3 linked regions of the Homo sapiens genome follow. The protein of the gene in region 2 interacts with the protein of the main gene of each other region in a pairwise test. Each region holds a gene or a part of one and is shown on either strand. Other genes may lie near its edges. The genes, in order: HADHA, ABCF2 and UPF2.

What was found.
Region 1: the proteins of ABCF2 (region 2) and HADHA interact in a two-hybrid assay, tested with the Homo sapiens proteins (one large-scale study listed by BioGRID).
Region 3: the proteins of ABCF2 (region 2) and UPF2 interact in a two-hybrid assay, tested with the Homo sapiens proteins (one large-scale study listed by BioGRID).

What each region holds. Positions count from the first base shown.
Region 1 is NC_000002.12:26,234,507-26,238,239, forward strand, and holds part of HADHA (trifunctional enzyme subunit alpha, mitochondrial precursor), read right to left. Parts: intron 2,483-3,733; coding exon 2,349-2,482; intron 1-2,348. UniProt on the Homo sapiens protein: Mitochondrial trifunctional enzyme catalyzes the last three of the four reactions of the mitochondrial beta-oxidation pathway.
Region 2 is NC_000007.14:151,210,839-151,214,182, forward strand, and holds the end of ABCF2 (ATP-binding cassette sub-family F member 2), read right to left. Parts: coding exon 3,216-3,344; 3' UTR 646-3,215; downstream 1-645. Other genes in the region: ABCF2-H2BK1 (ABCF2-H2B protein), read right to left, coding at 3,220-3,344.
Region 3 is NC_000010.11:12,025,810-12,029,309, forward strand, and holds part of UPF2 (regulator of nonsense transcripts 2), read right to left. Parts: coding exon 2,936-3,500; intron 1-2,935. UniProt on the Homo sapiens protein: Involved in nonsense-mediated decay (NMD) of mRNAs containing premature stop codons by associating with the nuclear exon junction complex (EJC).

The sequences.
Region 1 (3,733 bases), on a different chromosome or scaffold from region 2:
AGCACAATAGCAGCAACATCATTTCTCCATAAAGAGTGTTAAACTTCTGGATCCATGAGACCATCCCGGCTAACACGGTGAAACCCCGTCTCTACTAAAAATACAAAAAATTAGCTGGGCATAGTGGCGGGCGCCTGTAGTCCCAGCTACTTGGGAGGCTGAGGCAGGAGAACAGTGTGAAACCGGGAGGTGGAGCTTGCAGTGAGCCGAGATCGCGCCACTGCACTCCAGCCTGGGCGACAGAGTGAGACTCTGTCTCAAAAAAAAAAAAAAAAATTCTGGATCCAGAAAACATAAATGTGTTGCATAATTTATTTTTACTTCTGTAATAAATCATTAAATTACAAAGCTTGGTACAAGGGAAAATCATCTTTGGTAAATTACTTCACTATCAGATTAAACATTTCACTATCAGGTAGTTAACAGCAATAAAAATGACGCAAAAGAAAAGCTTCCAGGTTGTTTAGAGAAATCTAAAACATTTTAACAGATCCCACTAATGAATAAAAATGACCAGGTAGGCCAGGCATGGTGGCTCATGCCTGTAATCCCAGCACTTTGAGAGGCCAAGGCAGGTGGATCACCTGAGGTCAGGAGTTCGAGACCAGGCTGGTCAACATGGTGAAACCGCGTCTCTACTAAAAATACAAAAATTAGCTGGGCGTGGTGCTGCATTCCTGTAGTCCTGGCTACTCGGGAGGCTGAGGCGAGAGAATCACTGGAACCTGGGAGGTGGAGGTTGCAGTGGGCCGAGATCGCACCACTGTACTCCAGCCTGGACAGCAGAGGGAGACTCCGTCTCAAAAATAAATAAGTAAATAAAAATGATCAGGTGCAATGATGTTCCACTCAATGTCCTTTAATTTCAGTTTGTTTCATTTGCTATTTTGTGAACACACTTAGGATATGGATTTTGTACTTTTGACCAAGGATAACTAGTATATTCTGTAATTTTATACACTGAGAGTTGCTCAGCTGGCCTCATAGAAGCTACATGTATTTTCCTCTGGATATAGGTAGCTACTGCCAGGTACATCAGTGTCTTGTTAGACTTTATAAATGTTCTGTTTAATGTTAATTTTTTAGAAGACCCAAAATTATCTTATCAAGTGGTTTTTCTTCTAGCTGAATTATTTGTGCCTAACAAGAGACTGATTACTACACATAAATAATTACACTTTCAGTACAAATTACTAAACCTACAATGCTGGCTATCATTGTCTAAAATACAAAGAACATAACAAATACCCATATTTTAATGGAATTGACAACTTAACATTTTAACCTATTAAACTGACACTAAAATATCATTTCCCCTCCTTATGTATGTGTAAACAATTGTAAATAAGTTAATGTAGGCATGCATTCCACCATTTAGCAGAGGAAAAGAAAATACTAGCTGCATCTGTAAAGCTGCCTTTAACAATCAAGTCCTACCACCCACTTCATTTCCCCAAAGCAGCCATCTTCATGTTTGTAGTGTCTCCTTCCAGACCAACTACGATTGTGTCCATAAATAGTATCAAGAATTATTCCATGTTTGGTTTTAAAACATTTATAGAAACTATATACTGTATGAAACATTCTGCAATTTGCTTTTCTTTTAACTTAACCTTATGTTTTTGAGTTCTAACATCATATTGTGGATCTAGTTAATTCCTTTTACCTGTTTTGTAGTATTCTATTGTGTGAATAGTCCACATTTTACTTACCCATTTTCCTACTGACTGACATTTGGTTTTAAATTCTTCATTATTTCACACTACACAGGACCAAACATCCTTGTACACTGGTTCTTATAAACAAGGGGTGAGATTTCTCTAGATCACATGATGTGTGTGTGTGTGTGTGTGTATATATATATATATATACTCTGTGTGTGTGTGTGTGTGTGTGTGTGTGTGTGTGTGTGTGTATATACTTTTTTTTTTTAAGACAGTCTCACTCTGTCACCCAGGCTGGAGTGCAGTGGTGTGATCTCGGCTCACTGCAACCTCTGCCTCCCAGGTTCAAGGGATTTTCGTGCCACAGCCTCCTGAGTAGCTGAGATTACAAGCGTGTGCCACCATGCCTAATTTTTGTATTTTTAGTGGAGACAGGGTTTCACCATGTTGGCCAGGCTGGTCTTGAGCTCTTGGCCTCATGTGATCCACCTGCCTCGGCCTCCCAAAGTGCTGGGATTACAGGCAAGAACCACCACACCCAGCCTGATACGTACATTTTCAATTTTACAGGCCTGTGTCACTGTGCCCAGCACTTCTACTTTCTTTTAAAAGGAGAAATTATTAGGCCTAAGAAACACACTATTAACCAAGATAAAAGGTGACTTCAAGTTTCCTAAAACTTACTTGATATCAGCACCTGCAATAAAGCAGCCTGGCTTTGATGAGATAAGGACGGCACTTCTGATTTGATCACTAGCCCAGATTTCATTCATAACTTCTGAGAACTCTGAATGTAGCTCTTTACTCAGTGTATTTACCTGCCAAAGGGAAATATATACAGGTAAGGGTTTAAATTTGAAGCACTGGATGTACGTACCACCATCAAATGCTATTTTGATTATAAGAAATATACTTATCCGGCAGAAATATACTGTTAGAAGAGAGTAAGAAATATCATTCTCCCAGCAAGTCAGTAGCTTTCTATTCAGGCAGCTTTGGCCCACTACAAGCACCCCTTCCTTTAAAAATAGGTCTTCTCAAAGGAGAAACTCAGGGTCATCCTCAGAGTTTGAATCATATGTAGGCTATAAACAAATAGGTCTACAAACATTTATTGGCATGGAAAAAATCTGCATAATGTTAAGAAAAAAATGAAATACAAATAAGACATATAGGCCAGGCATGGTGGCTCATCCCTGTAATCCCTGCACTTTGGGAGGCCAAGGTGGGCGGATCACTTGAGTTCAGGAGTTCGAGACCAGCCTGGGCAACATAATGGAACCTTGCCTCTACAGAAAATACAAAAATTAGCCGGGCCTGACAGCACACGCCTATAGTCCCAGCTACTCAGGAGGCTTAGGTGGGAGGATCACCTGAGCCTGGGGAGGCTGAAGCTGCACTAACCTGTGACTGTGCCACTGCACTCCAGCCTAGGCAACAGAATGAGACCCTATCTTCAAAAAAAACCATATAGTATGATCTTAGTTTTGTAAATATTATTCATTGAAACTGAATTAAATGTGATTATCCCATGGAAGATACCAAGAAAAAGATGTGGTTATCTTTAGGTTTGAATTATGAATGTTTATTATTTTCTTCTTTATAATTTTTTATAGTTGAAAAATTTTCTACCATTGACATATATTACTTTTGTGTTCAGGAAAAATGTCCAACCTAAGAAAATTCTGAAAAAATATCTTAAGCTTGAATCATTGGTTAGTGAGTGCTAAAATTTACTCTAGTAAAGGGGAATGGCTCTTATTTACCTTAATTTGTGATAGTTGTCAACTGCTTCCATCTAGGTCTTATTACATCTAAGCCTCTGGCTATAAGTTTGTTGTTGTTGTTTTTTAGAGAGACAAGGTCTTGCTCTGTGGCCCAGGCTGGAGTGCAGTGGTGCAATCATAGCTCACTGTAACCTTGAATTCCTAGGCTTAAGTGATCTTTCCACCTCAGCCTTCAGAGTAGCTAGCACTACAGGTGAACATCACCATACCCAACTATTTTTTATTTTTTATAGAGACAAGGTCTTGCTATGTTGCCCAGGGTGGTCTCAAACTCCTGGGCTG
Region 2 (3,344 bases):
AAATGGGTATATGAAGGGTATCCTTCATATACCCATTGTAGGATGTATCCTTGTAGGATGTATCCTTTAATTGGGAAGAATGAGAGAAAGAAACGGTGTGAAAGGTAGAGTGGAATCAGTGTGAGCGGAGTATAATGAGGCTTGGACTGAAGGCAGATGAGCAAAACGCCTGAGCCTGGACTAGATGCAGATAGCAGAAGCTCCCCAGGTGGTGAAGAGGCTGACAGGGAGGAAGACCACTGGAGGAGGTGAGAAGCAGAAAAGCAATAGGTGCTCACCAGAAAAGCAGACGTGGCGGTCTTGGGAGTTAGCAGTAAAGGGAAGAAAAGCCCATTGCAAAATGGAGAAAGTCAATTGTCTCACTTAGCACCTATGGGGGAACAAATACTTCAGGCCCTTGAATGCTGTGATTAAAGAAACCTGGAGCAATATGAAAGGTATAGGGGCTTGGGGGAAAAGAGGATGTTACAAATTGAGAGGTGGGAGAAGGGTTCCAAAGACCAGCATCACCTGCTGGCTGTGTTAAAGCTAGCAACCCCTCAATCAACTTACCTCTCCACCCAGCTCTGAACGGCTGGCCACATCCTACGGGCTAAGGTTTAAGAGAATTAACAGGCCACTTCTCAATCCAAAACAAGGCACTGCTAATTTTAGAAATATGTATTTTGTGGACTTTTAAAGCATTATTTAAATTACCAAGGTTGACATTTTTCTTGACAAATAAGCTGACTAGACTATTTCCATTCCTCCAGGTTCTGAAGATCTCCTGTCCTAGTATGGAGACTCTGGAGATCCCGAGACTACCTGAATTCTTAGCAATATCCAGCACTTCCTTAAGTATCAAGGGCTCTGTCCCTCACTGTCCCCATTATCCCAGCAGCCCACTCTCCAGATGCCATTCTCCCCTGAACCAAGGCTCTGGACTCTCAGGACAGACTAACCTGGGCCATTTTGCTCCAGGCCCCACTTAAGGCATAAAGCAGTCAAGCCAGTACCCTCTGGGGTCAGAGGACTCCCATCTGTCTCAGCTGCAGTGTCTCACGGGAGGCTCCTGTCCCTGTTGCCCAGGGCAGCTCCTGGACTTTGTGGCCATCTGAGAAGATCCTACTCATTTTTCAAGTGAGAGCACACCAATTCCACCTTTCTGGGCAGCTACTCACAAGAAATTTCCCTCCTTTTTGAATACTTCTGTCTCCTATCTAAATCACAATTTAGCATCTAATTTGTGTCCTGTATGGTTCTGTCTTACTGGCTTTCCAAGAAGATCATGAGCTCCTAAGGGGTTTAAGCACCATCTGGGACAGTTGCTCCCGCCAGTCCTGGCTGTATTATGAGTACTGAAAAATCATGGCTGTGTCTTCCCATAGGGATGGCTGATTTCAGAGGCAGAGTGATGAATCCACACCAGGAAGGATGGCCACTGGTGAAATGCTATTGAAGTTCAAAAGACCCAGATAAGGTATGCAGAGCCCTGGGCTGGAAGTGAATTCAACAGTGATGATAACTATGGCTGTGGACAGGTAAAAATACAAAATTTCCTGTATCCCAATAGGAAGAGAGGTTCACAGACGTTGGTGTGAAAATGCAAACTCCTGGCCATCTCTGCACCTCTCTCATTCTACCAAATGCGATTAATCAATAGGTCTGATGCTCAGCAATCTGAATTTTTTTATTTTTTTGAGACAGTGTCTCGGTCTGTCATCAGGCTGGAGTGTAGCGGCACGCTCTGCTCACTGCAGCCTCAACCTCCTGGGCTCAAGTGAGCCTCCTCTTATCAGAGCAGCTGGGACCGCAGGCACATGCTACTATGCCCGGTTCATTTTATTACTATTTGTAGAGAAGGGGTCTCCCTACTTTGCCCAGGCTGGTCTTGAACTTCTAGGCTCAATTGATCCTCCTACAGTGGCCTCCCAAGGTGATGAGCTTACAGTCGGATTACAGGTGTGAGCCACTGTGCCTGGCCAGTCTGCATTTTTTTGAGACAGGGTTTTGCTCTGTCATCCAGGCTGGAATGCAGTGGTGCAATCTCAGCTCACTGCAACCTCCACCTCCTGGGCTCAAGCGATCCATCCACCCTAGCCACCTGAGCAGGTGGGATTCCAGGCACATAAAGACGGGTTTTGCCATGTTTCCCAAGCTGGTCTTGAACTCCTGAGCTCAAGTGATCCACCTGCCTCAGCCTCCCAAAGCGCTGGGATTACAGGTGTGAGCCACCGCACCTGGCCTGCATTTTTAACAAGCAGCCCAACTGCTGTGCAGTTGGGGCAGAACCTCAGATCACAATCAGAAAACCACGCTCCTGGACAGTGGTTCTCAAAATAGTCTCTAGACCAGCAACAACAGCATCACCTGGAAACTTGCTAGAAATGTTAACGTTCTTGGTCTCCCCCAAAACCTATTGAACCAGAAACGCTGAGGCGAGATCTGGCAATCTGATTGCATGAGCCCTCCAGGTGATTCTGATTCATGTTAAAGTCTGTGAATCACAGGCCTGAGAAAAGGTACAATTTCAAATCAGAAGTAAAGGGACAAAGTTCTTCCAGCTCCTATGGACTAGTCTTCAGTTCCCATCGACACACTGACGCTGGATCCAGCTCCTGCTGTGGGCAGTGCATGTTGGCACTGCAGGGAGGAGAAGGCCCCAGAGACCCGAGAAGGAAGGTAGGGACCGTGGCTTCCTCTTTCTTTATTGGGCGCTTTGTAGATGTCACGCAGGTCTAAAAGTTACACTGCTAAATAATTATTTAAAAACTGACCAGGACGAAGGTCCTGGTCCGGAGCTCCAAACCAGAAGCAAAAAGGAATCGGGGCGGTGGGCTGGGGGGTACTCCTCCAACATCACCAAAACCCAGAAAACGAGGATCCTAAGCTCCTCCGCAGGCCAAATCCAGGGCTTGGGCCCCTGGGCTAACCCGCAGGTGCCTCTGACTGCATCACACTCAGAGTAAGATAACCAGCAAGGGGCTGGAGGGAACGGCCAGCCGAGTCCAGACATGGACAGATGTAACTGGAAGGAGGACAGGAAACAGACAGGTACTGTCCAGCTGTAGGTAAGAGAGTGCAGCTAAGGCAGGTTGAGGGGCAGGGGAGAGGCTGGGGGAGCAGTATTGCAGCAATGCAGGAGTGTAGCCCCAGGGTCCTGTCCTGAGCGGCTGGTCAGGTTAGCAGCTGTTAGTTCCCAGATGGAGCTCCTGACCCGAACCCAGGTAGAGGGCTCACACGTTGTGGGTCCTCTTGGTGAGCTGGGGCTCCTCATCCACCAGCTTGGACTTGAGGTGCTCCTTGTAAGCCAGGATGTCTCCAGGCCACTTGGTGATTGTCTGCTTCTCACAGACCCAAATTTC
Region 3 (3,500 bases), on a different chromosome or scaffold from region 2:
TTCGAGACAGGGTCTCTCTCTGTCGCCCAGGCTAGAGTGCAGTGGTGCGATCATGGCTTACTGCAGTCTCGACTTTCCAGGCTCAACTGATCCTCCCACCTCAGCCCCCAAGTAGCTGAGACTACAAGCGCATGCCACCACACCCAGCTAATTTTTATATTTTTTGTAGCAATGGGGTTTCAGCATGTTGCCCAGGCTAGTCTCAAACTCCTGGGCTCAAGCGATCCTTCTGCCTCAGCCTCCCAAAGTGCTGACATTACAGGCGTGAGCCACCGCACCCTGCCAGTACTATTAATAATACACATGTAATCAATATCCAAAGCTTTCATAAAGCTAAAATAATATACAAAAAGCATCTAAATAAAGTTTAACAGAGATATGCAAGTACACATTTAGGCTTTAAAAATTGTATTTCACTAGTTTAAGGTGAAGAAGAAGTGGCTTGTCAGCAGTTCATATGAGAAATAAAGCTTCAGTGCAAATAAGTTTAACAAAAACCAAAAGAACAACAAGGTAGCTATAAAAACTAAGGCAATTTTAGGTCACAGATAGAAAAGAATGCATCCAAAACAAGTATCCTAAGAGTAGTGAAGTGTCTGGAAATCATGGAGCAAACTGAAAGAACTGGAGGTATTTAACATGGAGACGAGAAAAGGGAAACATCACGGCAGTCTGAATATCTGAGATACTGTCATGGGAATAAAAGTGGACACATATGTCCTCTACTGGTATTCCTCAAACCATCTGTGGTAAAGGGCCACCTTTCCTTCCCCAACCACTGGACACTTCTGTAAAAATATAGTAAGAATACCATGACCACTGAAAATTCCTATAAACTTTTTTTTTTTTTTTTTTTTTAGGACGAAGTCTCGCTCTTGTCCTCCAGGCTGGAGTGCAATGGCACAATCTCGGCTCACTGCAACCTCCACCTCCCAGGGTCAAGTGATTCTCCTGCCTCAGTCCCCCACAAGTAGCTGGGATTACCGGGGCCTGCCACCATGCCCGGCTAATTTTTGCATTTTTAGTAGAGACGGGGTTTCACCATGTTGGCCAGGCTGGTCTCAAACTCCTGACCTCAGATGATCCACCCACCTTGGCCTCCCAAAGTGCTGGGATTACAGGTGTGAGCCACCATTTCCAGCCTGAAAATTCCTATAATAATTTCTAAATGCTCACTCTCACTTTCTGTGTTTCATTAAATTGTGAACAGGTTACAAGTTCATAGATTTCCTACTTCAAGTACCTGTATTCCATCCATACCAGAAAAAAGAACCAAATCAAAGGGAATCATTTTGTGGGAAGTTAAATTTCCACCTGATGTAACAAAGAATTCCTAGCCCATAGTGTTTCCAACAGTGCAATGGCACCGAGAGAACTGAGCTCCTTTGGGAAGTATTCAGAGGAAAAATAATTTTATCTGTTAGATAATCTAAAAAATGTATTCCTACTTTGGAAAGGTGAATGGATTGGATTAAAACATCGTAGAATCTCTCCACTCTCCAAGATTCTGAGTCCAATCAAAAGCAAATACACACACATACACCCTCAAAGTAGCCAAGAACTAATCAATCATTAGCATACTATTAGCATACTCACAAATCAGTTATGATGTATTAGGTAGGATGTACGAGCAAAGGACTATGAAATTGACAAAGCATATGGAAATCATAATTAAGCCCTAAGTAAGTGAGAAGTATGAATAAAGCACCACCATAATCCTTTTTAGTCCATTACTGATGGTACAAGTACACTCTCAGGTTGCCTCTTCAAAGTTTAAACCAGTCCTCGCAAATCAAAACACAAAACAAGGATAAGCCTTTTCCTTTTTCCTAAAAGAACTATTGATAACACCTTTGCCGTCTTAAATTCTCACCTCTGAGTGACCTTCAGCCACAAAGATTTAACCACAGTCTCTACCTTGACCCTGCCCTAACTGTACTACTGGCATACACTACTCCTGTTCAATCTTCTGGTCAATCATCTTCTAGTGGTAACTACTTAAACCACTCCTCCCCTACCACAGACTTATGAAACTAGAAAAGGATCTCCTCCTATACAAATTTCTGATCAACAGTAATTTCAGATTCTCAACCATGCAATATAAATAGTTGTAGAAATATTAAAATAGTTTAATACTCAGCCACGTGCTATGGCTATTACCTCTTTGCTACACTCCCTCAGCCCCCCTCCAAATCCATCCTCCATAGAAATTGACCTAATGCCTAGCAACTCCATCAACTTCTAGCTTCTTGTTGCTCCTCAGGTACAAATACTACACAGTAGTCTACCATACCTTTTAACAACCAAAATTGGCCCCAAAGTCAGGTCTTTTCACCAATTACCACAGGCACAGTACATTCCTCCTTTAGAATTTTAAATGAATGCCCCCAGGAAGAAGACTCCTACAAATGAGTTTTGTAGTTGCATTTAAGAAATTTTTTCACAGCTAATTTTGTGCATTATTTCCCAAAACTCTAATCTGAAATACCACTGGTAATTAATGACTCATTTTCTTAAGAAGAGCAACAGTGACATAAAGAACTTAAAATACAAAACAATGAAAGCAAACCTGTTATAGAGAGAACGTTAAAGCACACAGAAAAATATTAGCAGGTAAGTTTAAGTGACAGAAAAGGAAATTTTACCCCTTGATTATTAAGGAGTATTTAAAATCACAGGAAGAATACACATCCACAAAGCAAAAATCACCATCTACTTGGCAGATTTTTTTAAAATCAGAAACAAAATCTATCGTAGACTCACATTAAAACATGAGTACTCAGACTGTTCTACTTTGAAATTTTCCTGGAATGTTAAGAAATCACCTGTAAGGAGCCCTTTTCCATAAGTTCTTTCAGTGGCATGAAGACTTTAAACATTTTTAAGTATGAGCTCCAAAATAAATTCTCAACTCTGAGAAACATTTGAAAATCACCTGTTTTGTCTCTCAGTATTCTGGAGCTCCCTGTGGTCCCTTTTCAGGTGTTTGGTCAAAGACGTAAAGTACTCTTTTAAAAGATTCTGGAAGGGCTGTTGTTTCTCTGGACTAATTATCTCACTAGGAGGAAAACTCAAATTAAACTTCTCTGCAGCACTCTTTACTTTCCTTGGTACAAGTCCAGCAATATCATCTCCACAATGTCGACAGAAACTAATCACTACAGAGACATGAGTGTGGGACTCCCGATCAGCATTAATAATATTTTTTAGCTGTTCATAGATTAAGGAAAGACCTTCCTTGTCAGTGAAAATCCCAACTATTGTCAATTCTGCAATAAAACGCAAATCAGTTCTTAACTTGGTGATGTTAGGTGTTTTCTCCTCTTTCCTTGCTTCAAAATGTTTTTTCCAGACCTGAAGAAGTGATGGGGCAAAGTCAGCATAACGCTGGTGAAAGAGAGAGCAGAGGTGCACAGCACAGTTCACATCAGAGATTTTTAGTTTTGCTTCCACGATGGAAGCTACAGCTTCTGCAATGTATTTGCTTAAATTTAGGCCAT